Homo sapiens: one gene and its partner. The protein of the gene in region 1 interacts with the protein of each later gene in a pairwise test. Each region holds a gene or a part of one and is shown in the gene's direction. Other genes may lie near its edges. The genes, in order: MZT1 and TRIM72.

Region 1 (12,410 bases):
TGTTACACAGTATTTAAATCAACCCGTGAGATCAAAAATAAAATTTTCAAAACTTTTTGAATACCATTTCTCCCCTCAATGGTAGCATTTGTGAACCTCCCTTTAAGTCATGTGAATTGCAGAACTCTTGGCTACATTTGCATTTTGATCATGAAATGAAAGGATTTTGTTAAAGACATGGAAGGAAGCAGGCTAACTTTCTATTAATAAATTATCTGTGCACCTCACTCTGAAAAGAACTATCTCTGCCAATTTAGAATAAGGTCTGCATGAGATCTCTGCTTTCATCCTTATATCCCTAAAATTCTACACGCTTAAAATAGTCGTGCCTTTTCAACAACACCCCCCTCGCAACCCACTGTGTATGGTTGCCTCTTTTGCTTTTCAACTTTTTGGTATGTTAGGTACTCTCTATTGATTGCTTTTTATACCTTAATTTTTATTTTCCTCTAAAATCGTCCTGTGCATCTGAATTTTAATTTTGATAATTATTCCTTATGAGAGGCTTTATCATAGCACTATTTTTTTTTTTTTTTTGAGACCGAGTCTGGCTGGAGTGCAGTGGCGCGACCTTGGCTCACTGCAACCTCCGCCTCCCAGGTTGAAGCTGGGGATGGGAACCAATTCTCCTGCCTTGGCCTCTGGAGTAACTAGGATTATAGGCGCCCGCCACCACGCCCAGCTAATTTTTGTATTTTTAGTAGAGACAGGGTTTCACCATGTTGGCCAGTCTGGTCTGGAACTCCTGACCTCAGGTGATCCACCCGCCTCAGCCTCCCAAAGTGCTGGGATTATAGGCGTGAGCCACTGTGCCCGGCCTGTAGCACCACTTTACATATATATATGTGTATATATATATATATATATATGTATATATATATATATATTTAGTAGTAAGTACGGGTGCCTGTAATCCCAGCTACTTGGGAGGCTGAGGCAGGAGAATCGCTTGAACCTGGGAGGCGAAGGTTGTCGTGAGCTGAGATTGCGCCACTGCACTGCAGACTGGGTGACAGAGCTAGACTCCATCTCAAAAAAAAAAAAAAAAACACGTTATAGAGAAAGGAGTTAAGAGAATCTATGGTATATAGATTCCATTTGACTAGCACTGCAAGGCAGTACCAGCGAAACAGTCCATGCTACCACCATCAATCCAGTTGCACATTTGAGAAAGAAATCTAGAAGTCAGTCTTGCTTTCTCACCTCCTCTGCCTCCTGTTCTTCACTAAGCCCTTTCAATTCTTGACTCATTTCAGGTTGGCTAAATATCTCCTGTTCATCCTACCCACCAGTCTTTTATCAAAATTGTGATATAACTGGACTTTTTAAAGATTCATTTGATACTCAGCCAAAAAGTCCTTAAAATGCAAGTTTGATTTTTTTATGTTCCTATTTTATATCATCCAGTAGCTTTCCACAGTTCTAAGATCTTCACTAGGACTTACCTCATATTTTATACCCATTCACCCCGTTAATTACATTGCCTTCACAATAGCAGTTCAGGTCTGAATTTACCAAGTTCCCTCTAGTGTAGGGACCATCACACAAGCTGTTTTCTTTGCTCTCAACCATCACCCTTCCTCCTGCCTCTGTATTAGTCTGGTTGATTTCTACTCACTTTTGATGTCTAAGTGTAATTGTCACTTCTTCAGACAAGTCTTTGCTAAACACTGTGTCCTTCCAAACTTGGTAAGATGCCCTTGTAATTTGTTTCAGAAGTATTCCACTCTTTATTTATTTTACTTATATCTGGAATCAGTTATTACTTTAATATCTATCTCTCCTCCTGGACTAATATCTGTGAGGAGTGGGACCATATATACCTTGTTCATAACTGTATTTGCAGCAGTAGCATAATAGGCACAAAATACATATAGTTAGAGGTTGATTATCTCTCATCCAAAAACCTTGGGACCATGTTTTGGATTTCAGATTTTTTTTTTTGTAATATTTTCACATACATAATGAGATATCTTGGGGATGGGACCCAAGTCCAAACACAGAATTCTTGTATGTTTTATATATACCTTATACACATAGCCTGAAGGTAATTTTGGTTTTTTCCCTCAGGGATGCTGAATGAACTGTGTATTGTGCACCTGCATTTTGACTTTGATCCATTATATGAGGTGTGGAATTTTCCACTACGGTGTTATGTCAGTACTTAATAAGTTTTGGATTTTGCGGCATTTCACATTTCAGATTTTGGAATTAGGAGTGTTCAACCTGTACTGATCATATGGTAGGCACTAAAGAAATAGTTTTTGATTACAGGCGATTTGTGAAAATAGGAAGTAAAAATAGGTGTCCATTTGAAAAGAAGGCTTAAAGAAGAAACCACAAATGAGATGGACTAAGAAAACAGCATTGAGTTATATGAAGGGAGGATAAAAGGCAGAGGAGAAAAGCAAGAACAAAGGCATGAAGTCAGGAATAAGCATAGCCTTTATACGTGGGGGGGTCTACCATGAAGAGAACAAACTGGAAACTGGAGAGAGAAGGGAGAGAATCAACTGAAAAACTGTTAGAAGCATCATAGAATTCATCAAGGTGACTGGTGATTAAAAAGTTTAATATGTAGTGTTCCAGTATACTGATGGTAACCACTTAGAATGTACAAGGGCTAAGTAGAATCCATTTGTGAAGACAGTCAAAAATAAAGTGAAGATTCAATATGGTAGATTGAGCACTTGCTGAAACTCTAAGCATATAAAAAAATAGGAAATAGTAAGAAAATATAATTATCAGGATAGACCTGTTCAAAAGCAAGAAGGGAAGTCTCCATTGATTAGGAAGAGAGAGGTTTCCCCCCAAAAGAAAGGAGCAGATGGGAACCACAGCAGGGGATTGTCGGGAATAGAATCTGACAAAGCATGCTACCCTGCCTCACTGAAGTTGGGAGTCAGAAATGTGCCATTTGTCACAGCCAGAGATTGAGAAGCACCATCCATGTGTTTTTTGGATCTGGACCAAAAATACTACAAGGCCTGATCTAGAGGCCTAAAGCTAGGGTACGGCTTCCTATCTTAGAATGGGCCACCAGTCCAGGACACCTAAAATAAATCTATGGAAGATGAGTTTTCAGCCAAGAATGACAAAGCACCTAAGGTAGATGAAAAACATGAGCAACTAACATGGAAAAGGAAAAAGAGGGAAAGTGGTAGTAACAGGGAACTCTTTTTTATTGAGCCCTACCGTATGCCAAGCACCATTCCAAAGGACTGCAAGGCAGTGTCAGCAAAACAAATGGATACCATTCTAAGTGTATCCTTTAATTCTCACACTAATCCTTTAAAACAGGTACTCTTATTATCCTCACTTTCGAGAATGGTGAAATAAGGCACAGAGAGAGTAACTTGCCTACTAAATACTACAGCTAGAATTTGAACACAGGTAGTCTGGCTCTAGAGATCACACTCCTAACCACTGTCTTTTGCTGCTTGCTTATACTCCAAGAAATAGAGATAATAGAGCAATCTCAAATACAGTTTAAGAATATAGCCTTAAATAGACGAAGGCAGGAACAACAGCTGTGAAATTTGTCACTATAAATAAGCATTTAGTTATAAAACAAGTGTTTATGGTGAGAAATTAGAAATTAGAAATCTTGAAAGCTACTGAAATAAATTTGAAATAAATTCAGCAGATAATATGAATAACAGGCTGGATACAGCTGAAGAGCAAAGTATCAGTAAATTGGAATATCAAAACTGAAGAAATGAAAATGGGAAGAGCTGTCATCTTCCAGCCAAGATGGAGTAACAGAGATTAGATTTATGCTTCTACTTGAAACAACCAAGAAAACTCAGGTAAAGCATACAGAACAATGGTTTTCAAGACACTGGACATCAGGCATCAGAGTACAGTGATCCCTTAGAGACAGGAAACAAGCAAAGTGATTTCTTGGGTTGCCCCAGCTCACTGCCTTCAGAGAGTTCCAGGCCTCAGTATAGCAGGGAGAACCCAGTGGACACACTGAAGTGAGTAGGAGGAGTTTAGAAGACCTGGGAGACCAAGGCAGGTAGAGTTTGAATAACAGTACCTGAGAGGGGAGAACTGCACAGAAAGAATGCTGGAGATCTGTAGAAGTGTCCCCCTTAAGTATTCAGAGCATTGATTAGCAGATGTGTGAGGAAAGTACTCAGAAAGCTGGGAGGGAACCATCTAGAAGGATTAGAGTGAACCGTGCACCGTGCTTACACAGGGCTGAGGATAGTGCCTGTAACTACCAGCCAGAATGGAAATCTTTGTAATTCATAAGACATTGGATACAGTACTCAGAATTCTTACCTCAATCATAAGGGGAATAATTAGCCCTATCCTAAACAGGGCTCTGGTCCTGCCTAACAGATCTAAGAAGTAATATCCGAAAGGATCAAACCATTTCCAGATAACGGTATCTCATTATAAAGCTCAAGAATTAGAAATACAAAACTATCCGGTACCTAAGTAAAATTCTAAGTACATGGCATCCAATCAAAGATTACCAGATATGCAAGGCAGAACAGTATGACCCATGATGTGAAAAATTCAGTCAATTGTAACGAACACCCCCCCGATCACACAGATGTTAGAATTAGCAGACAAGGGCATCAGAACTATACTCCATATCTCCAAAAAGTTTAGTAGAGGCATGAAAGACATTTTTTTTTTTAAGACTCAAATTGAACTGCTATTTTTGTTTGTTTGTTTTTTCTTTTGAGACAGAGTTTTGCTCTTGTTGCCCAGGCTGGAGTGCAATGGCGCAATCTCGGCTCACCGCAACCTTTACTTCCCGGGTTCAAGCGATTCTCCTGCCTCAGTCTTCCAAGTAGCTGGGATTACAGGCATGCGCCACCTTGCCTGGCTAATTTTGTATTTTTAGTAGAGACGGGGTTTCTCCATGTTGGTCAGGCTGGTCTCGAACTCCCGACCTCAGGTGATCTGTCCACCTTGCTCTCCCAAAGTGTTGGGATTACAGGCGTGAGCCACTGCGCCCGGCTCAAATTGAACTTCTAGGGATGAAAGTGAATATCTGATATGGAAGAAATGGGAGGGACCTATCTCATGAACATGATAAATACTATAAGAATTTTCAGAAAGACTTAGACTTAAATTAATGGGTGACTAAATATTGATAACTTGTCCATTCTTCCCAAAATAATAATGTAGTTTTTATACAGTTAATCAGAATCCAGTTGGAATTTGTTTTTAGAATTGATGAAAAATGTTCAGTTCATCCGAAGAATAAAATGGCTTATATAAATGAAAGATGACAACGGAATGTTTACCCTACTACATGCAATATAAAGTTAGAAATTAAATGGTTGCCCTTACAAAAGATAGACATGTAACAAATTTGTAAGTATATGGGAATTTACTATGAATAAAGGTGGCATCTCAACTGGGTGGGGAAAACTTAGGTCATTCAATAAATTTTACTGGGGCAACTGGCTCATTTCTGGGAGGAAAAGTTAGATCCTATTTTCCACCCAAACTCTAGGGAGATAAATACTTATGGGGGGTTTTGGGAAATAAACTTCAAAGTGCTGGAAGAGAATACTGGTGGATATAATCTTTTCATGGGGAATAATTTTCTAAGCATAATGCCAAGGGGAAATGATATAGGAAACAATAGATAATATGTTGACAGTTGACTTAAAATATTCTAAATACTCTCTGGGAAGCAATCTTAAAACAAAATTCAGTGGAACCGGTGTACTTACAACCTGTAATGGAAGGGATTCTGAAAATCACTTTGGAAACCAAGTTTCTCTGTTTGTGCTTCTCATGTTAAAGACAATGAGTTCTATCAACTACAATAAAATGCAGTACTATACAAATGAAGTTTAAAAAATATAAGGTTTCATTTTTATTATTAGATTCAACAGACATGATTACGCTGTCAAATTGTTATAAAAGTTTCTAAACACTTTTAAAGCCTTAAATATGTACATTACCTTTTTTTGACTATTGTATGTCAATTCAGCAAATTAAATATGTATATTACTGACTGAGCAGTTCTACTTCTAGAAATTTATCCTAATGAAATAAAATTTAGTATGTACAGATTCTTACCAATATTATTTTAATGAGAGAAACATGAGAGCAGCCTAACTTTTAAAGTAACAGAGTAGTTAAGTATAGTGTTTCCATAAAATGGAATAATATGCGACTAGTTAAACTGCATTTTAAAAGAATACTAAAAAATAAGCAAGTGTTCAGAATTATCCTAAGTATGGTGGATACATGTTAGATATTAAACAAGTGCTAGAATATATAGCAAGATGTAAAAGGCAGTTATGTGAAGGGAAGGTGTAAGTTTATATTTATATTTAAGTTTCTAAAACTAAGTAAAGGCAAGAAAGTATTACATGCAGATTTCCAAAACCTGGGATGCTATGCTAATTCCTTGGTATTGTGCAGTGATATATAAATTAATGAAAGTACTATATGCATATTTTTAAATGCTGTAAGCCTTAAGTTTTTTTTTTTTTTGTATCTTTTTTCAGTTCTGCTTGAGATTTCAAGAATTTTGAATACTGGCTTAGATATGGAAACTCTGTCTATTTGTGTACGGCTTTGTGAACAAGGAATTAACCCAGAAGCTTTATCATCGGTTATTAAGGAGCTTCGCAAGGCTACTGAAGCACTGAAGGTTGGAGATTCCTATTAGTTCATTCTAAATAAAGATGCTTTTATTTAGAAAAATGATTAATGATGAAGTTATGGGAAACATCCTGGTTAAACAAGGTTAAACTAACATGCAACACCACTAGAAGACCAGGAGCTCAATAGTGTATGTTCATATCATAAAAATTACTACTACTAGGCCGGGCGCAGTGGCTCACACCTGTAATCCCAGCACTTTGGGAGGCTGAGTTGGGCGGATCATGAGGTCAGGAGATCGAAACCATCCTGGCTAACACAGTAAAGCCCCATTCTCTACTAAAAATACAAAAAAATTAGCCAGGCGTGGTGGTGGGCACCTGTAGTCCCAGCTACTTGGGAGGCTGAGGCAGGAGAATGGCGTGAACCCAGGAGGCGCGGAGCTTGCAGTGAGCCAAGTTGGCGACACTGCACTCCAGACTGGGTGACAGAGTGAGACTCCGTCTAAAAAAAAAAAAAAGAAAAATTACTACTACCATGGACCATGTTATGTTTTCCCAGAAGTCTGTTTTTAGAATTGTGCTATTTGGTGAGTAAAATTGTGCCTGCTCCAGAAGAGGCATGTTGAGGTCCTAACCCCTGGTCCCAATGAATATGACCTTATTTAGAAATAATGCCTTTGCAGATATAATCAAATTAAGATGAGGTCATCCTGGATTAGGGTAGATCCTAACCCAATAATTGGTGGCCTTAGAAGAGAAATTTGGACACAAATAGCCAAGGAAAGTTAAGGATTTTCTGTGGCCATAAGAAGCTAGAAAGAGGCAAGGAAGGATATTCCCCTAGAGCTGTCAGAGAGCATGACCCAGCTAACGCCTTGGTTAAATATGTATAGTAGGTATGGATTTCTGGCCTTCAAACTGTAAATAGATTTTTGTTGTTTTAACCCACCTAATATGTGGTTACTTTATTATGGCAGTCCCAGAAATCTGATACAGATTTTGGTACTGGGAAGTGGGGTGTTGCTGTAACAAATACTTAAAAGTGAGGATGTGGCTTTGGAATTGGGTATTGGATAGAGACTGGAAAGTTTTAAGGTGCTTGATAGAAAAAGACTAGATTTCCTTGAAGAGGAACTGTTAGTAGAACTGTGAATGTTGAGGCAATTCTGGTGAGGGCTCAGAAAGAAGAGAAAAGAACTGTAGAGAAAGCTTCAGAGTTTTTTCGAGACTAACATTAGGATCAGAATGTTGCTAGAAATGTAAATGTTAAAAGCACTTTTAGTGAAGACCCAGATGGAAATGGGGAACATTTATTGGACACTAAAAGAAAGGTGGTCTTTGTTAGAAAGTGACAGAATGGGCCAGGCACAGTGGCTTAATGCCTGTAATCCCAACACTATGGGACACCAAGGTGGGTGGATCACCTGATGTCAGGAGTTCAAAACCAGCCTGACCAACATAATGAAACTCCATCTCTACTAAAAATACAAAATTAGCCAGGCGTGGTGGCACATGCCTGTAATCCCAGCTACTTGGGTGGCTGAGGCAGGAGAATTGCTTGAACCCAGGAGGCAGAGGTTGCAGTGAGCCAAGATTGCGATATTGCACTCCAGCCTGGGCAACAGGAGCGAAACTCCATCTAAAAAAAAAAAAAAAAAAAAGAAAGTGACAGATTGTGGCTGAATTGTGTTCTATTGTTGGAAGGAAAATAGAATATGTAAGCAATGAACTTGGATATTTCATTGAGGAAATTTCCAAGCAAATTGTGGAAGGTGTAGCCTGATTTCTTTTTGCTGCTTAATAATGTGACACAAATGAGCAATCGAGTAAGGACCTGCTAAGAGAAAAGGAACTAGCATCTGAGAATTTAGAAAATTCTCAGCCTGTCTGAATAACATGTTCTGGAGACAGGGCTAAGAGTGTGGCTACACTTTTGTGAAGACATTAGGTATGTGATAGAGCCAGTCAACCATCTCAACACAAACACTGCCAGCTTGGACAGGATGAAGTGAAAGAAGGCTATCAGATTAGTGGGATTGTTTAGACAGGAAACTGGCTGATAGAGCTGCTCAGCTGAGGGCCCATGTGTTATCCTTCAAGAAAAGGAAAAAGTGACTCCAAGAGCGCCTCAGAGACCATGGGACTGCTGCTGCCACCAGGTTCCCAGAGGGCCACCTTTTTTCCAATTCAAATTAACCACGTTTTAATTGCTCAGATTGGCAACTAAAAACATGTCCTATTCTGTCTTCCACAGACTTTCTGATTTAAAAGCTTGTGATTTTATTTCCCTTTTTATATAGCACTAACTCACTTTGAATACTGAAACTTTAAGTTAGTTCATCTTAAAACTTGTCCAAAACATGGGCTCATAGAGACGGTCAATGGGGGGAAAAACAAACAAACAAATAAAACCTTCTGATACCTGATACAAAGTGACTTCTCTTTTTTCTTACCTTTAAGAAATCAACTATTTAAAACATGCAATTTACATATCTTTCAGATTATTTTCCAATGAGTTCTTATTCTTTAGGTTTGTTTTTGTGCTTTTTAAAATCTCTTGATTATTAAATCTAACTAAAAAGGGTAAACCACATTTGTAGAGCTAAAATGTATCATAAAGAGAATATCCATGCAACCATCACTGCCAGCACCAGATAATCCCCCTTCTGCCCTCTCCCCAGTCACTAACCCCTCTCTCTTGCTCTCCTCTCCAGTAACTACTATCCTCACTTTTATGGTAGACTCTGTATTAGTCCATTCTTGAATTGATATAAAGAAATACCTGCCGGGCATGATAGCTTAAGCCAGTAATCCCAGTACTTTGGGAGGCTGAGGTGGGCAGAGCACTTGAAGTCAGGAGTTCAAGACCAGCCTGGCCAACATAGTGAAACCCATCTCTACTAAAAATAAAAAAATTAGCCAGGCATTATGGCAGGCACTGTAATCCCAGCTGCTCGGGAGGCTGAGGCAAGAGAATCACTTGAACCCAAGAGGCGGAGGTGGCAGTGAGCCAAGATTCACACCACTGTACTCTAGCCTGGGCAACAGAGGAAGACTTCCTCTTAAAAAAAAACAAAAACAAAAAAACCGGAGACCAGATAATTTGTAAAGAAAAGAGGTTTAATTGGCTCATAGTTCTGCAGGCTGTATAGAAAGCATAGTGGCATCTGCTTCTGGAGAGGCCTTAGGAAGGTTACAATCATTATGGAAACAAAGGGGGAGAAGGCATGTCACATGGCAAAAACAGGAGCAAGAGAGGGAGAGAGTGAGGTGCCACAGTTTTATGTAACCATAACTCTTAAGAATTCACTCACTTTAGCGAGTACAGCACCAAGAGGATGGTGCTAAACCATTCATGAGGGATGAATTCAGTCAACTCCCACCAGGCCCCACCTCCAACATTGGAGATTACAATGGAGATTACAACATTGGAAATTACATTTCAAGGTGAAATTTGGGTGGGGATGCACATCCAAACTATCATTCCCTCGCTGGCCCTTCCCAGATCTCATGTGTTCTTCTCACATTGCAACATACAATCATGCCTTCCCAACAGTCCCCAAAAGTCTTAACTCATTCCAGCAATAACTCAAAAGTCCAAAGTTCTGAGACAAGGCAAGTCCCTTCCACCTATGAGCCTGTAAAATCTAAAACAAGTTATTTACTTCCAAGACACAATGGGATTATAGACATTGGGTAAACATTCCCATCCCAAAATGGGTAAATCAGCCAAATGAAAGAGGCTACAGGCCCCATACAAGTTCCAAACCCAGCAGGGTAGTCATTAAATCTTAAAGCTCCAAAAAAATCTCCTTTGACTCTGTGTCCCACATGCAGGACACACTGGTGGGAGGGGTATGCTCCCAAGGCCTTGAGCAACTCTGCCCCTGTGGCTTTACAGGGTTAAGCCCCCATGGCTGCTTTCGTGGGCTGGCATTGTTGAGTGTCTGCAGCTTTTCAAGGCTCAGGGTACAAGCTGTCAGTGGATCTACCATTCTGGGGTTGGAGAACGGTGGCCCTCTTCTCACAGCTCCATTCGGCAGTTCCCCAGTGAGGACATTGTGTAGGGGCTCCAACCCCATATTTCCCCTCTGCACTACTCTAGTAGAGATTCTCCATGAGGGCTCCACCCCTGAAGCAGGCTTCTGCCTAGATACCCAGGCTTTTCCATATATCCTCTGAAATCTAGATGGAGGCTGCCAAGCCTCAGCCATTGTACTCTGTGCACCCACAGGCTTGACACCACATGAAAGTCACCAAGGCTTATGTCTTGGATCCTCTGAAGCCGTGTCCCAAGCTATACCTGGGCCACTTTGAGTCATGGCTGGAGCCAGAGTGGCTGGGATGCAAGAAGCAATGTCCCAAGGCTGTGGAGGGCTGCGGGGCCCTGAGCCTGGCCCATAAAACCATTCTATCCTAGTTCTCAGGGCCTGTAATGGGAAGGGCTGCCTCTTAGATCTCTGAAATGTTGTCTAGGCCTTTTACCCATTATCTTGGCTATCAGCACTTGCCTTCTATTTAGATTCAGAAATTTCTCTAGCAAGTGGTTGCTTTGCAGCCCCCTTGAATTCTCCTGAAAATGGGCTTTTCTTTTCTACCACATGGACAGGTTGCACATTTTCTAAACTTTTATGCTCTGCCTCCCCTTTAAGTATAAGTTCCAGCCTTAGGTTATTTCTTTGCTCATGCATCTGAGCATATGCTGTTAGAAGGAGCCATGCAACATGTTGAACACTTGGCTGCTTAGAAATTTCTTCCACCAGATACCCTAAATCACTCTCAAGTCCAAACTTCCACAGATCCCTAGGACATGGGCACAATGCAGCCAAATTTTTTGCTAAAGCATAACATGCATGACCTTTGCTCCAGGTCCTGATCCTGGGCCTCGGAGACTGTCATGGGAAGGGCCGTGTCTTAGATCTCTGAAATGCTGTCTAGGCCTTTTACCCATTATCTTGGCTATCAGCACTTGTCTCCTATTTAGATAGGGAAGTTTCTTTTTTACCTCAAACCTTTGGCTTTCATATGGCAGAAAGAAAAATAACTGAATAACAAGAATAGCTAATATTTATATGAATACTTTTCTCATGCCAGACCGTATGTTCTACAGGCTTTACTGGCATTATTTCCTCTATCATTATAACAGTGATAACTACTACAGTTTGAGCATTCCAAATCTGAAAATCCAACATGCTCCAAAATCTGAAATACTTTGAGTACCAACATGACACTCAAAGGAAATCCTCACTGGAACATTTCAGATTTTCTAATTAGGGATGCTCAGTCAGCAAGTACAGTCAGTCCTCTGTATTTGTGGGTTCTGCATCCATGGATTCAACCAGCTGTGGATCAAAAATATTTGGGGAACAGGGGGAAGGATGGTTATGTCTGTACTAAGAATGTACAGACTTTTTTTCTTCTCATGATTCCCTAAACAATACAGGATAACAACTATTTACATAGCGTTTACATCGTGTTAGGTATCACAACGAATCCAGAGATGATGTAAAGTATGTGGGAGGATACATGTAGGTTATATGCAAATACTATACCCTTTTATATAAGGCATTTGAGCATCTGTGGACCTTCGTATCTGTGAGGTGGGGAAGATGGGGAGTCCTGGAACTAACAATTCACCATGGATACCAAGGGACAACTTCAATGCAAATTTTCCAAAATTTTAGGACATCTGAAATCAGAAACAGTTCTGGTCCCAAGCATTTCCGACAAGGGATACTTATCCTATGCTACTATTAGTAGTTTACTGCTAAGGAAACTGAAGCTTATGGTGACTAATTTACTTACCTTAAGAACTTTACA
Region 2 (12,410 bases), on another chromosome or scaffold:
GGGAGAAGGGCATTATGGGGAGAAGGGCATTGCAGGGAGAAGGGCATTGTGGGGAGAAGGGCATTGTGGGGAGAAGGGCACTGCGGGGAGAAGGGCATTGCTGGGGAGAAGGGCATTGGGAGAAGGGCATTGCTGGGAGAAGGGCATTGCTGGGAGAAGAAGGGCATTGCTAGGAGAAGGGCATTGCTGGGAGAAGAAGGGCATTGTGGGGAGAAGGGCATTGCGGGGAGAAAGGCATTGCTGGGAGAAGAAGCGCACTGTGGGGAGAAGGGCATTGCTGGGAGAAGGGCATTGCTGGGAGAAGGGCATTGCGGGGAGAAGGGTATTGCTGGGAGAAGAAGGGCATTGCAGAGAGAAGGGCATTGTGGGGAGAAGGGCATTGCAGGGAAAAGGGCGTTGCTGGGAGAAGGGTGTTGCTGGCAGAAGGGTGTTGCTGGGAGAAGGGCATTGCTGGGAGAAGGGTGTTGCTGGGAGAATGGCATTGCTGGGAGAGGGGACAGCCAGCGAGAGGGCTGGCGAGTGGGAGGGAAGAGGAAGCTGCGGTAGTAGGTGTGTGCACACTGGCGAAGCTGAGAGGCTTGGACCTTATCCCAACAGAAGGATTAAAAGAAAATGTAGTTGGGCCGGGTGCAGTGGCTCACGCCTGTCATCCAAGCACTTTGGGAGGCTGAGGCGGGCAGATCACCTGAGGTCAGCAGTTCGAGACTAGCCTGGCCAACATGGCAAAACCTCACCTCTACTAAAAACACAAAAATTAGCCAGGCATGGTGGTAGGCGCCTATAATCCCAGCTACTTGGTTGGCTGAGGCAGGAGAATTGCTTGAACTGGGGAGGCAGAGGCTGCAGTGAGCCAAGATCATGCCACTACACCCCAGCCTGGGTGATAGAGCCAGACTCAATCTCAAAAAAAAAAAAAAAAGACCAAAACCAAATAAACAGTGGTAAAATAATACATGTAACATAAAATTGACAATTTTCAGCTTCTTCTTCTTCTTTTTTTTTTTTTTTTAGACAGGATCTTGCTATGTTGCCCAGACTGGACTCAAATTTCTGAGCTCCAGTGAGCCTCCTGAGTCAGCCTCCCTGAGCAGCTGGGACTACACTCTACCTCGCTCATTTTAAGCATTTTTAAGTGTGCATTTAAATTCAGTGGTGCTAAGTACATTCACATTGTACAACCATCACCAGTGTTTATCTCCAGAATTTTCTCATCTTCCCAAACCAAAACTCCAAAGGAAGAGTTTTAAGCAGGGGTGCGATGTGGGGAGATCCTGGAATCCCCCCAGCCCTTGTCCTCCCCCCTCACACATGCCTCCCCTTCCCCTCCCCACCCCCAGGCTGCAGAAGATCCTGGCAGAGTCTCCCCCACCCGCCCGTCTGGACATCCAGCTGCCAATTATCTCAGATGACTTCAAATTCCAGGTGTGGAGGAAGATGTTCCGGGCTCTGATGCCAGGTACCGGGAGGGACTGGCTCAGGTTTGTGTGTGACCAGGCAGTTGATGGGAGGCCCTAGCCACCCTGGAGAGGCCTCCCAGTCCCAACTGGGGAGGCCACTGAAGGAGGTACCCATTGCCCCTTTGCCTCTGGACTGCCGCTGCAGTCCTCTAACCTGTGTTGGGAGGAGGGCCTTTGAGAGCATGGGGTTTGCAGTGGGTGACTGACATGAAAATGCTGCTGCTGTTGGTGGCACGGGACGCTGGGGCCTAGGTCTGAGCCACTGACTTGCTGTGTGATCCTTGGTCAGTCTCTGCCCCTCTCTGGACGGTGGAGATGATAAATCCTGCCAATTGGGGACTGAGGCTCTGCAGAGCTCCTGGAACCCTGGGGACTGGCCTGGGTCAGAGAGTGACTCTGGCGGCCTGTGGCTGGGGAGGCCCAAGGGCTCAGTTCCTCCCCCCAAGAGCTGGATGATGCAGGTTACAGAGCTCTGGGACATACACATTGCTGGGGCAGCCCTTCCTGCCTCAGCGCAGGTGGGAATGCAGACAGCCTCATTTTATTCAAGATAAAACTAAGGCTCAGAGACTGGGTCTAGGCTGATGTGAAGATCAGGCTCCTTGACCTTGGGCCTTGGGCCTTGTCTGGGCCTCAGATGGTGAGTCCCATGCCTTGTATCAATTTAGTCCTGTTGGCCAGGCTCGGTGGCTCACGCTTGTAATCCCAGAACTTTGGGAGGCCGAGGTGGGAGGATCACTTGAGCCCAGGAGTTGGAGACCAGCCTGGGCAACATAGTGAGAACACCTGTCTCTACAAAAACTTAAAAAAATTAGCCAGGTGTGGTGGCACGTGGCTGTAGTCCCAGCTACTTGGGAGATGGGAGATGGGAGGATTGCTTGAGCCTGGGAGTTGGAAGTTGCAGTGAGCCTAGGTTGCACCTGCGCTCCAGCCTGGGCGACAGAGTGAGACCCCGCCTCAAAAAAACAAAAAACAAAAACAAAAAACAACAACAATAACAACAACAAAAACAAAAAGAAAATGCAGGCCTGCCTGCAACCCTGGAGGGAAGCAATCATGGCCTCATCTCACAGCTGGGCAAACTGAAGTTGAGCCAGGTGTGATCTTGTGGCCCAAGCCCAGTGAGCAGAGATGCCAAGAGGATTAGGGGAGAGAAAGCTGGCCTGCAATTGGTTGGGAGAAGACCCCAGCGAGGCAGAAACCTAGGGTTTTCTGACCGTGTTCTCTCTGGCAGCGCTGGAGGAGCTGACCTTTGACCCGAGCTCTGCGCACCCGAGCCTGGTGGTGTCTTCCTCTGGCCGCCGCGTGGAGTGCTCGGAGCAGAAGGCGCCGCCGGCCGGGGAGGACCCGCGCCAGTTCGACAAGGCGGTGGCGGTGGTGGCGCACCAGCAGCTCTCCGAGGGCGAGCACTACTGGGAGGTGGATGTTGGCGACAAGCCGCGCTGGGCGCTGGGCGTGATCGCGGCCGAGGCCCCCCGCCGCGGGCGCCTGCACGCGGTGCCCTCGCAGGGCCTGTGGCTGCTGGGGCTGCGCGAGGGCAAGATCCTGGAGGCACACGTGGAGGCCAAGGAGCCGCGCGCTCTGCGCAGCCCCGAGAGGCGGCCCACGCGCATTGGCCTTTACCTGAGCTTCGGCGACGGCGTCCTCTCCTTCTACGATGCCAGCGACGCCGACGCGCTCGTGCCGCTTTTTGCCTTCCACGAGCGCCTGCCCAGGCCCGTGTACCCCTTCTTCGACGTGTGCTGGCACGACAAGGGCAAGAATGCCCAGCCGCTGCTGCTCGTGGGTCCCGAAGGCGCCGAGGCCTGAGCCGCCGGACGGGTAGTGGAGGGGCGCGGGGGCCTGGGTTGAAGCTTAGGTCTCCTTGGTCGGGTCTGACGGGAGAAGGGTGGGGAGCGGGTTGCCAGGGCCCAGGGGGCTGGGAACTGGGGGATCTCCCAGAATACTGACAAGCGTGGGGTAGGACTGGCTTGGTGGCTCATGCCTGTAATCCCAGCACTTTGGGAGACGGAGGCGGGTGGATCACCTGAGGTCAGGAGTTCAAGACCAGCCTGGCCAACATGGTGAAACTCCTCTCTACTGAAAATACAAAAATGAGCTGGGCGCGGTGGCATACGCCTGTAATCCCAGCTAGTTGGGAGGCTGAGGCAGGATAATTGCTTGAACCCAGGAGGTGGAGGTTGCAGTGAGCAGACATTGCGGCACTGCACTCTAGCCTGGGTGACAAGAGTGAGACTCTGTCTCAAAAAAAAAAAAAAGTGTGGGGGTTGGCATGGCCTGGGGACTGCTGGTGAGGGGTTGGAGTGACGCTGGGGACAAGACCCAGTGGGGTAGGGAGATCTGGAGTCAGGTCAGTGGGGAAATCAGAATTTGGGAACCAGGAGGCCTGAGAATTCCAGGAAGAAACTAAGGTTGAGCGAGGGAGGGACAGGGCCAGGTTGGGGGATTGATGGGAGGAGCTTGAGAACCTGTAGATAAGGGGCTCCTTTTGCCTCACACTCCCCTCCTCCTTAGGCCTTGGGTCCCCCGCTCCAGATTCACCTTACCCAAAAGCCTTCTCCTTAGTTCTCCACCTTAGGCATGCATTAAAATCACCTTTTTAAAGCCCTTAGCCATGACTTGTTAAAGCATAGGGTGCTAAGTTTCTGATTTAGTAGGTTGGACAGGTCAAAAATGCTCATTTCTTTTTTTTATTTCTTTTTTTTTTTTTTTTTTTTTTTTTTGAGACAGAGTCTTGCTCTGTCACTCAAGGCTAGAGTGCAGTGGTGCCATCTCGGCTCACTGCAACCTCTGCCTCCAGGGTTCAAGCAATTCTCATGCCTCAGCCTCCCAAGTAGCTGGGACTACAGACGCCCGCCACCACACCTGGCTATTTATTTTTATTTTTAGTAGGGGTTTCACTATGTTGGCCAAGCTGGTCTCGAACTCCTGACCTCAAGTGATTCACCCGCCTTGGCCTCCCATAGTGCTGGGATTACAGACATGAGCCACTGCACCTGGCTGAAAATGCTCATTTTTTTTTTTTTAATTTAGTTTTTGTAGAAATGGTGTCTCGTTACATTGCCCAGGCTGATCTTGAACTCTTGGCCTCAGGTGATCCTCCTGCCTTGGCCTTCCAAGTGCTGGGATTACAGGTGTGAGCCACCACGCCCTGCCAAAAATGTGCATTTCTAGCAGGTTCCCAGGTGACGCTGCTGGCCACAGGGGCTGACGCTGCGGGAAGCCCTGACCTAGTGCACAACCCATTGGGCTCTTCACTGTCAGTGTAGAGGCATAGGTCCAAAATATGTTTCCCCAGTCAAAAACATGTAAGGTTTGCACCAGGAGTGGAAGGAAACAAACAAACATAAACCAAAGCAAAGACACTTAAGGGCTGGGTACTCATGCCTGTAAACCCAACACTTTGGGAGTTTGAGGCAGGAGGCTCATTTGAGGCCAGGAGTTTGAGACCAGCCTGGGGAACATAGTGAGACCCTGTTGCAACAAAAACCAGAAAAACAACAAAAAGAAGACATTGGAAAATGGCTGGAGCTGATTCTAGGTGAATAAACAACCCTCGACTTAACTTGCTTTGCCTCTGGGATATGTTTATCGAGCGTCTTGAACGTTGAGGAAGCCAGCCAAGAGAAAGAGCCTGATGCCAAGGTCACACTGGTCCCTGCTGCTCATGGGGAAGAGAAGGCCCCCAACTAGATGTCCCAGAACTGGCCGCTCCCCACTTACTTGCTGGTTCACACCTTCTTTGGTTTTAGCGCACAGGGCATTTCTTGGGCTCTGGAGTAACCACTGAGGCCAGAGTGAGAGTCCCTCTTCCCTGGAGGGAGAGGCCTTTGGGGATCCAGACAGGCTTCTCTCCTGAGGGAAGACGCTGGCCTGGGGTCACTCATTTTCACGGGGAGGGTGTGCTGGCGGGATGGGTGGAAGGGCCTGGGGCCCCGGCAGCCCATTGCGGAGGTTTTCTCGGGAGATGGTGGGTATGGGACTAAGGGTGAAAGGGAAGTTGTGAGTTGGGTAAGAAAGGCCTGAGGATCTGGCAGGGGAAGGCGGCACACCTGGGTGTGTCTCCCAGAGGAAGGCCTGTGGAGCCCTGGCTTCAGGAGACAGAAGAGAGGATTAACGGTAGAAGCTCTTTCATGTTAGAAAATAAAACAATATAGCTAAGGGATTATTTGGTTGTAAAATCCAACACCATTAATAAAACTGTTATATTCTGACTCCTTCCTCATTAAATCCACATGAAAAGACATGTGACCTACTGCAAGGCCTCCTAATTGCCCTCCAGCCTTTAATCCTGACTTGGTAATGTTTCCAAAAATGCAAATGTGGTCACGGGACTCAGTTGCTCAAAACTTTCAACAACTCCCTCTTGCCTACAGGATAAAGCCCCCAGTCTTTGGCTTAGCATTTGAGCTGTTCTGCCATTTTTTTTGTTGGTTGGTTTGTTTGTTTTGTTTGAGACAGAGTCTCGCTCTGTCGCCCAGGCTGGAGTGCAGTGGTGTGATCACCGTAACCTCCGCCTCCTAGGTTCAAGGGATTCTCCTGCCTCAGCCTCCCGAGTAGCTGGGATTACAGGTGCCCGCCAGGCTGGTCTCGAACTCCTGACCTCAGGTGATCCACCCATTTTGGCCTCCCAAAGTGCTGGGATTACAGGCTGGCCTTCCAGCTTCATCTGTTTTTAGTTAAAAAACAATTTTTTTTTTTGAGACAAGGTCTTGCTCTGTCGCACAGGCTGGAGTGCAATGGTGTGATTGTGGCTCACTGCAGCCTTGACCTCCTGGGCTCACATGATCCTCCCACTCCAGCCTCCTGAGTAGATAGGATGGCAGGCACCCATCACCATGCCTGACTATTTTTTATTTTTTGTATTTTGGTAGAGATGAGGTCTCACTATGTTGCTCATGCTGGTCTCGAGCTCCTGGCCTCAAGCGATCCTCCCATCTTGGCTTCCCAAAGTGTTGGGATTACAGGTGTGAGCCACTGAGCCCAGCCCAGCTTCATCTTTTATTTTATTATTATTTTTTGAGATGGAGTCTCACCGTGTCACCCAGGTTAGAGTGCAGTGGTGTGATCTTGGCTCACTGCAACCTCTGCCTCCCAGGTTCAAGTGATCCTCCTGCCTCAGCCTCCCGAGTAGCTGGGACTATAGGCAGGTGACACTACGCCTAGCTGATTTTTGTATTTCTAGTGGGGACAGGGGCTTCACTATGTTGGCCAGCCTGGTCTCGAACTCCTGACCTCAGGGGATCCCCCAACTCGGCCTCCCAAAGTACTAGGATTACAGGCTTGAACCGCCGCGCCCAGCCCCAGCTTCATCTTAAAAAGAAAAGTTCTCTGTTTTAATATCTAACAGGGCAAATATTGAAAGATAAAACCACATAACAAAAGCTCTTTGGGATCCTAGTGTTGGGGAAAGGCTGCTGTCCATTGACTGTCACTGAACTCTCTGTCATTGCTCAGGCTAAGGACTGGCCACAGTGAGGGAGGGACCTGTGGTCTCCTGTGTTGCTCCTCACCCTGTAGACTGTGGGCTGTGGGCTGTGTCCAGCCTCACCTTGGATCACCGCCCTGTGCATGTCTACACTCTGGCTATGCTGAACTGAACTGCTGGGGTCTCTGCACCTCCTTTTTTTTTTTTTTTTTTTTGAGATGCAGTCTTGCTCTGTCGCCCAGGCTGGAGTGCAATGGTGCTATCTCAGCTCACTGCAACCTCTGCCTCCCAGGTTCAAGTGATTCTCCTGCCTCAGCCTCCGCAGTAGCTAGGATTACAGGCACCCACCACCACGCCAGGTTAGTTTTTTCATTTTTATTTGTATTTTTAGTAGAGGCGGGGTTTTGCCATGTTGGCCAGGCTGATCTCGAACTCCTGACCTCAAATGATCTGCCCGCCTCAGCCTCCCAAAGTGCTGGGATTACAGGCATGAGCTGTCGGGCCTGGCCCCTGCACTTCTTTTTTAGGAATGTCAGTTCCCTCCCACTTATCCTTCATGGCTCTCCCAAAACACCACCATTTCCTGTCCTCTCTTGACCTTCTAGGCCTCCAGGAAGAATCAGTTACTCTCCTCTCTGGATCGCCCAGCAGCTCCTCCACCATGTGTAGCCCACGGCATTGAATTGTCTACACACAGGCCATGGTGTCTGGAGGGATGGTGGTATCTGAGACCCAAAGCCTCCTTCTGAGGAAATGGGTACTCTGAGAAGCAGATGCCAAGATAGGATTAAATGGGCAGAGATTTTAGGAGGGAAGATGCCCATGTGAGGGAAGATGGGGAGGGCCATCAGACCGTGTCGCAAGTCTGCTGTTCGTGTGGGAGGGAGGGAGGGAAGGCTCTTGTGGCGTCTCCGGCAGCCAGAGCCACCGTCCAAACACTCCTGTGCCTTCCGGGACCCGGGCTGGCTTTAGTCTCCCTGCAGAGCTGAGTAATGTATGCTGCCTTTTGTTGGAATTATATCAGGAAACTTTCTTTCGAAGCTGCCACAGGTTCTTTCTGCGTATAGTTGCCCCAGCTTGAGCTGCATGCATTGAAGGAAATGGCCCATGGCTGACTGAGTGAGGTGGGCTTTGTGGGAAAAGCTGCGTAATCCAGGTGGTCCTTGTCGGGTGGGGCTGCCTGACCCAGGCAGGGTCTCCCTGGGGATGTAGGAAGGTGAAATGTGAACAGAGAAAGGAGTTCCTCCAGCACATGTGTTCTAAAGCACCAGCGTCCCCTCCGTGAGTCCCTCCTCTCCACGGGAACGCTGGAAACCCCCAGAAACTGGCTGCCAAGACATTTCCTGTGTTTCCTGACATCTTTAGGTAGCATAATAGCAAACTTGAACCTGCCAAGGCCATGATAAAACTGCAAGCAAGAACATTTATCGTGGCCAGGTGCAGTGGCTCACGCCTGTAATCCCAGCACTTTTGGAGGTTGAGGCGGGTGAATCACCTGAGGTCAGGAGTTCGAGACCAGTCTGGTCAACATGGTGAAACCCCATCTTTACTAAAAATACAAAAATTAGCCAGGCATGGTGGTGCATGCCTGCAATCCCAGCTACTCAGGAGGCTGAGGCAGGAGAATCACTTGAACCTGGGAGGCAGAGGTTCCGATGAGCTGAGATCGGGCCACTGCATTCCAGTCTGGGTGAGAGAGTTAAAACAGGAATTAAAAGAAATTAAAGAATGTGTAAGCAAAAACTCAGTTGTATGTAAGAAAACCCCATTCACCCTGAGGAAGAGAAAGAGCTAAAGTCCTTTAAAAATTAACTGCCTGTTTTTCTGTGGATAGTGAGCCTTATCTCTCTCCCTTTCCCAGGCATTGTGAAGACCCTGTTTCTCTAGCTGTGCAGCTGCAAGGTCACTAGGCAGATAAACTCAAGTCATAAAACATGTTTTTCCTTGAAAAGTAAAAAATGATGTAATGCATGTCTCAACTGAATAACTGTCTTTGTTTCTTGCTTCTGTAATATGCTTCCCCCTGCACAGATCTCCCCCTGCCCCACAAAATGCTTAAAAGGTAACCGGAGCCGGGCGTGGTGGCTCACGCCTGTAATCCCAGCACTTTGGGAGGCTGAGGCAGGCGGATCATGAGGTCAGGAGATCGAGACCGTCCTGGTTAACATGTTGAAACCCCGTCTCTACTAAAAATACAAAAAATTAGCCGGGCGTGGTGGCAGGCACCTGTAGTCCCAGCTACTTGGGAGGCTGAGGCAGGAGAATGGCCTGAACCCGGGAGGCGGAGCTTGCAGTGAGCCGAGATGGCGCCACTACACTCCAGCCTGGGTGACAGAGCGAGACTCCGCCTCAAAAAAAAAAAAAAAAAAAGGTAACCGGACTCTTTGTTCAGGGCTCAGTCTTTTTGGATGTTAATCTGACCGGGCCAGTGCACCTAACTAAATAATAAATAATAAGTATCCTCCTCAACCTCTTGGTCTCTCTGATTCCTAAATTATCCCACTGCAGAATGAGACTCTGTCTCAAAGGAAAAAAAAGAAAATTTATTGAGACCTTATTATGCGTCAATAGCTCTCTATTCAGAATCTCACTGATCTTCGCAACCCTGGATCTCACAACAACGAGAGCCCCACTAGGTTGCCTCTTTTGTTTTGTTTTGTTTTTTTTTTGAGATGGAGTCTCACTGTCTCCCAGGCTGGAGTGCAGTGGCGTGATCTCGGCTCACTGCAACCTCCGCCCTCTGGGTTCACGCCATTCTCCTGCCTCAGCCTCCCAAGTAGCTGGGACTACAGGCGCCCGCCACCATGCCTGGTTAATTTTTTTGTATTTTTAGTAGAGACGGGGTTTCACCATGTTTGCCAGGATGGTCTCCATCTCCTGACCTCGTGATCCGCCCGCCTCGGCCTCCCAAAGTGCTGGGATTACAGGCGTGAGCCACCGCGTCCGGCTTAGGTTGCCTCTTATACTGGGTTCACGCATCCCCTGGGTGCATGACAGTCTGACCACAAAGGACCCCGGTCCACAGAAGCATGATGCATCTTGGAGTATCGACTTTATGCCAATATTCTTCTTCTTGATACTGGTGGTGGTGAGAAAGTTGGGTAATTTAACCAAAAGTAAAAATCAAGATGTCACGTTCCCATTAAAACAAACATAGAGTACAGAATCTGTGTGAATTTTCAAGCTAAAACAAGAGATGTCGCTCTCCCTCTCCCTCTCCCTCTCCCTCTCCCCATGGTCTCCCTCTCCCTCTCTTTCCACGGTCTCCCTCTGATGCCGAGCGGAAGCTGGACGGTACTGCTGCCATCTCGGTTCACTGCAACCTCCCTGGCCTGATTCTCCTGCCTCAGCCTGCCGAGTGCCTGCGATTGCAGGCGCGCGCCGCCTCGCCTGACTGGTTTTCGTAGTTTTTTGGTGGAGACGGGGTTTCGCTGTGTTGGCCGGGCTGGTCTCCAGCTCCTAACCGCGAGTGATCCGCCAGCCTCGGCCTCCCGAGGTGCCGGGATTGCAGACGGAGTCTCGTTCACTCAGTGCTCAATGGTGCCCAGGCTGGAGTGCAGTGGCGTGATCTCGGCTCGCTACAACCTCCACCTCCCAGCCGCCTGCCTTGGCCTCCCAAAGTGCCAAGATTGCAGCCTCTGCCCGGCCGCCACCCCGTCTGGGAAGTGAGGAGCGTCTCCGCCTGGCCGCCCATCGTCTGGGATGTGAGGAGCCCCTCTGCCTGGCTGCCCAGTCTGGAAAGTGAGGAGCGTCTCTGCCCGGCCGCCATCCCATCTAGGAAGTGAGGAGCGCCTCTGCCCGGCCGCCCATCGTCTGAGATGTGGGGAGCACCTCTGCCCCGCCGCCCCGTCTGGGATGTGAGGAGCATCTCTGCCCGGCCGCCCCGTCTGAGAAGTGAGGAGACCCTCTGCCTGGCAACCGCCCCGTCTGAGAAGTGAGGAGCCCCTCCGCCCAGCAGCCATCCCGTCTGGGAAGTGAGGAGCGTCTCCGCCCGGCAGCCACCTCGTCCGGGAGGGAGGTGGGGGGGTCAGCCCCCCGCCTGGCCAGCCGCCCCGTCCGGGAGGGAGTTGGGGGGGTCAGCCCCCCATCCGGCCAGCCGCCCCGTCCGGGAGGGAGGTGGGGGGGTCAGCCCCCCGCCCGGCCAGCCGCCCCGTCCGGGAGGTGAGGGGCGCCTCTGCCCGGCCGCCCCTACTGGGAAGTGAGGAGCCCCTCTGCCCCGCCAGCCGCCCCGTCCGGGAGGGAGGTGGGGGGGTCAGCCCCCCCGCCCGGCCAGCTGCCCCGTCCGGGAGGGAGGTGGGGGGTCAGCCCCCCGCCCGGCCAGCCGCCCCGTCCGGGAGGTGAGGGGCGCCTCTGCCCGGCCGCCCCTACTGGGAAGTGAGGAGCCCCTCTGCCCCGCCAGCCGCCCCGTCCGGGAGGGAGGTGGGAGGGTCAGCCCCCCGCCTGGCCAGCCGCCCCGTCCGGGAGGTGAGGGGCGCCTCTGCCCGGCCGCCCCTACTGGGAAGTGAGGAGCCCCTCTGCCCGGCCACCACTCCGTCTGGGAGGTGTACCCAATAGCTCATTGAGAACGGGCCATGATGACAGTGGCGGTTTTGTGGAATAGAAAGGGGGGAAAAGTGGGGAAAAGATTGAGAAATCGGATGGTTGCCGTGTCTGTGTAGAAAGAGGTAGACATGGGAGACTTTTCATTTTGTTCTGTACTAAGAAAAATTCTTCTGCCTTGGGAAAAAAAAAAAAAAAAAAAAAGAGATGTCCACAAAATTTTGCATTGGTGCTGGCCATTTGTATAGGCCTTCAGACTCTCAAAAATGTGAGTTCTTAAAATTATTATTATTTATTTTTGAGACAGGGTTTCACTCCATCACCCAGGCTAGAGTACAGTGGTGTGATTTCTGCAGCCTCGACCTCCCAGTTTCAGGTGATCCTCCCACCTCATCCTCCCAAGTAGCTGGAATTACAGGCACACGCCACCATGACTGGCTAATTTTTTTAAGTTTAGTAGAGATGGGATTTCACCGTGTTGCCCAGTCTGGTCTCAAATGCCTGGGCGCAAGTCATTCACCTGCCTCAGCCTCCCAAAGTGTTGGGATTACAGGTGTGAGCCACTCCGCCTGGCCTAAAAATACTTTATTGCTAAAAATGCTAAGGATCATCTGAGCCTTCAGTGAGTCATAGTCTTTTTGCTGGTGGAGGGTCTTGCCTCAATGTCGATGGCTACTGACTGATAAGGATGGTGACTGCTGAAGGTGGGGGTGGCGGTGGCAATTTCTTAAAAGAATTTCTTAGGCCAGGTGCTGTGGTTCACGCCTGTAATCCCAGCACTCTGGGAGGCCGAGGTATGTGGATCACCTGAGGTCAGGAGTTCAAGACCAGCCTGGCCAACATGGCAAAACCCCATGTCTACTAAAAATACAAAAGCTAGCTGGGCGTTGTGGTGGGCATCTGTAATCCCAGCTACTCGGGAGGCTGAGGCAGGAGAATCACTTGAATCCAGGAGGCGGAGGTTGCAGTGAGCTGAGATCATGCCA

What was found.
Region 2: the proteins of MZT1 (region 1) and TRIM72 interact in binary tests that used the Homo sapiens proteins (3 or more experiments, as listed by UniProt).

What each region holds. Positions count from the first base shown.
Region 1 is NC_000013.11:72,713,179-72,725,588, reverse strand, and holds part of MZT1 (mitotic-spindle organizing protein 1), read left to right. Parts: intron 1-6,491; coding exon 6,492-6,637; intron 6,638-12,410. UniProt on the Homo sapiens protein: Required for the recruitment and the assembly of the gamma-tubulin ring complex (gTuRC) at the centrosome.
Region 2 is NC_000016.10:31,221,490-31,233,899, forward strand, and holds the end of TRIM72 (tripartite motif-containing protein 72), read left to right. Parts: intron 1-1,337; coding exon 1,338-1,456; intron 1,457-2,691; coding exon 2,692-3,266; 3' UTR 3,267-10,048; downstream 10,049-12,410. UniProt on the Homo sapiens protein: Muscle-specific E3 ubiquitin-protein ligase that plays a central role in cell membrane repair by nucleating the assembly of the repair machinery at injury sites.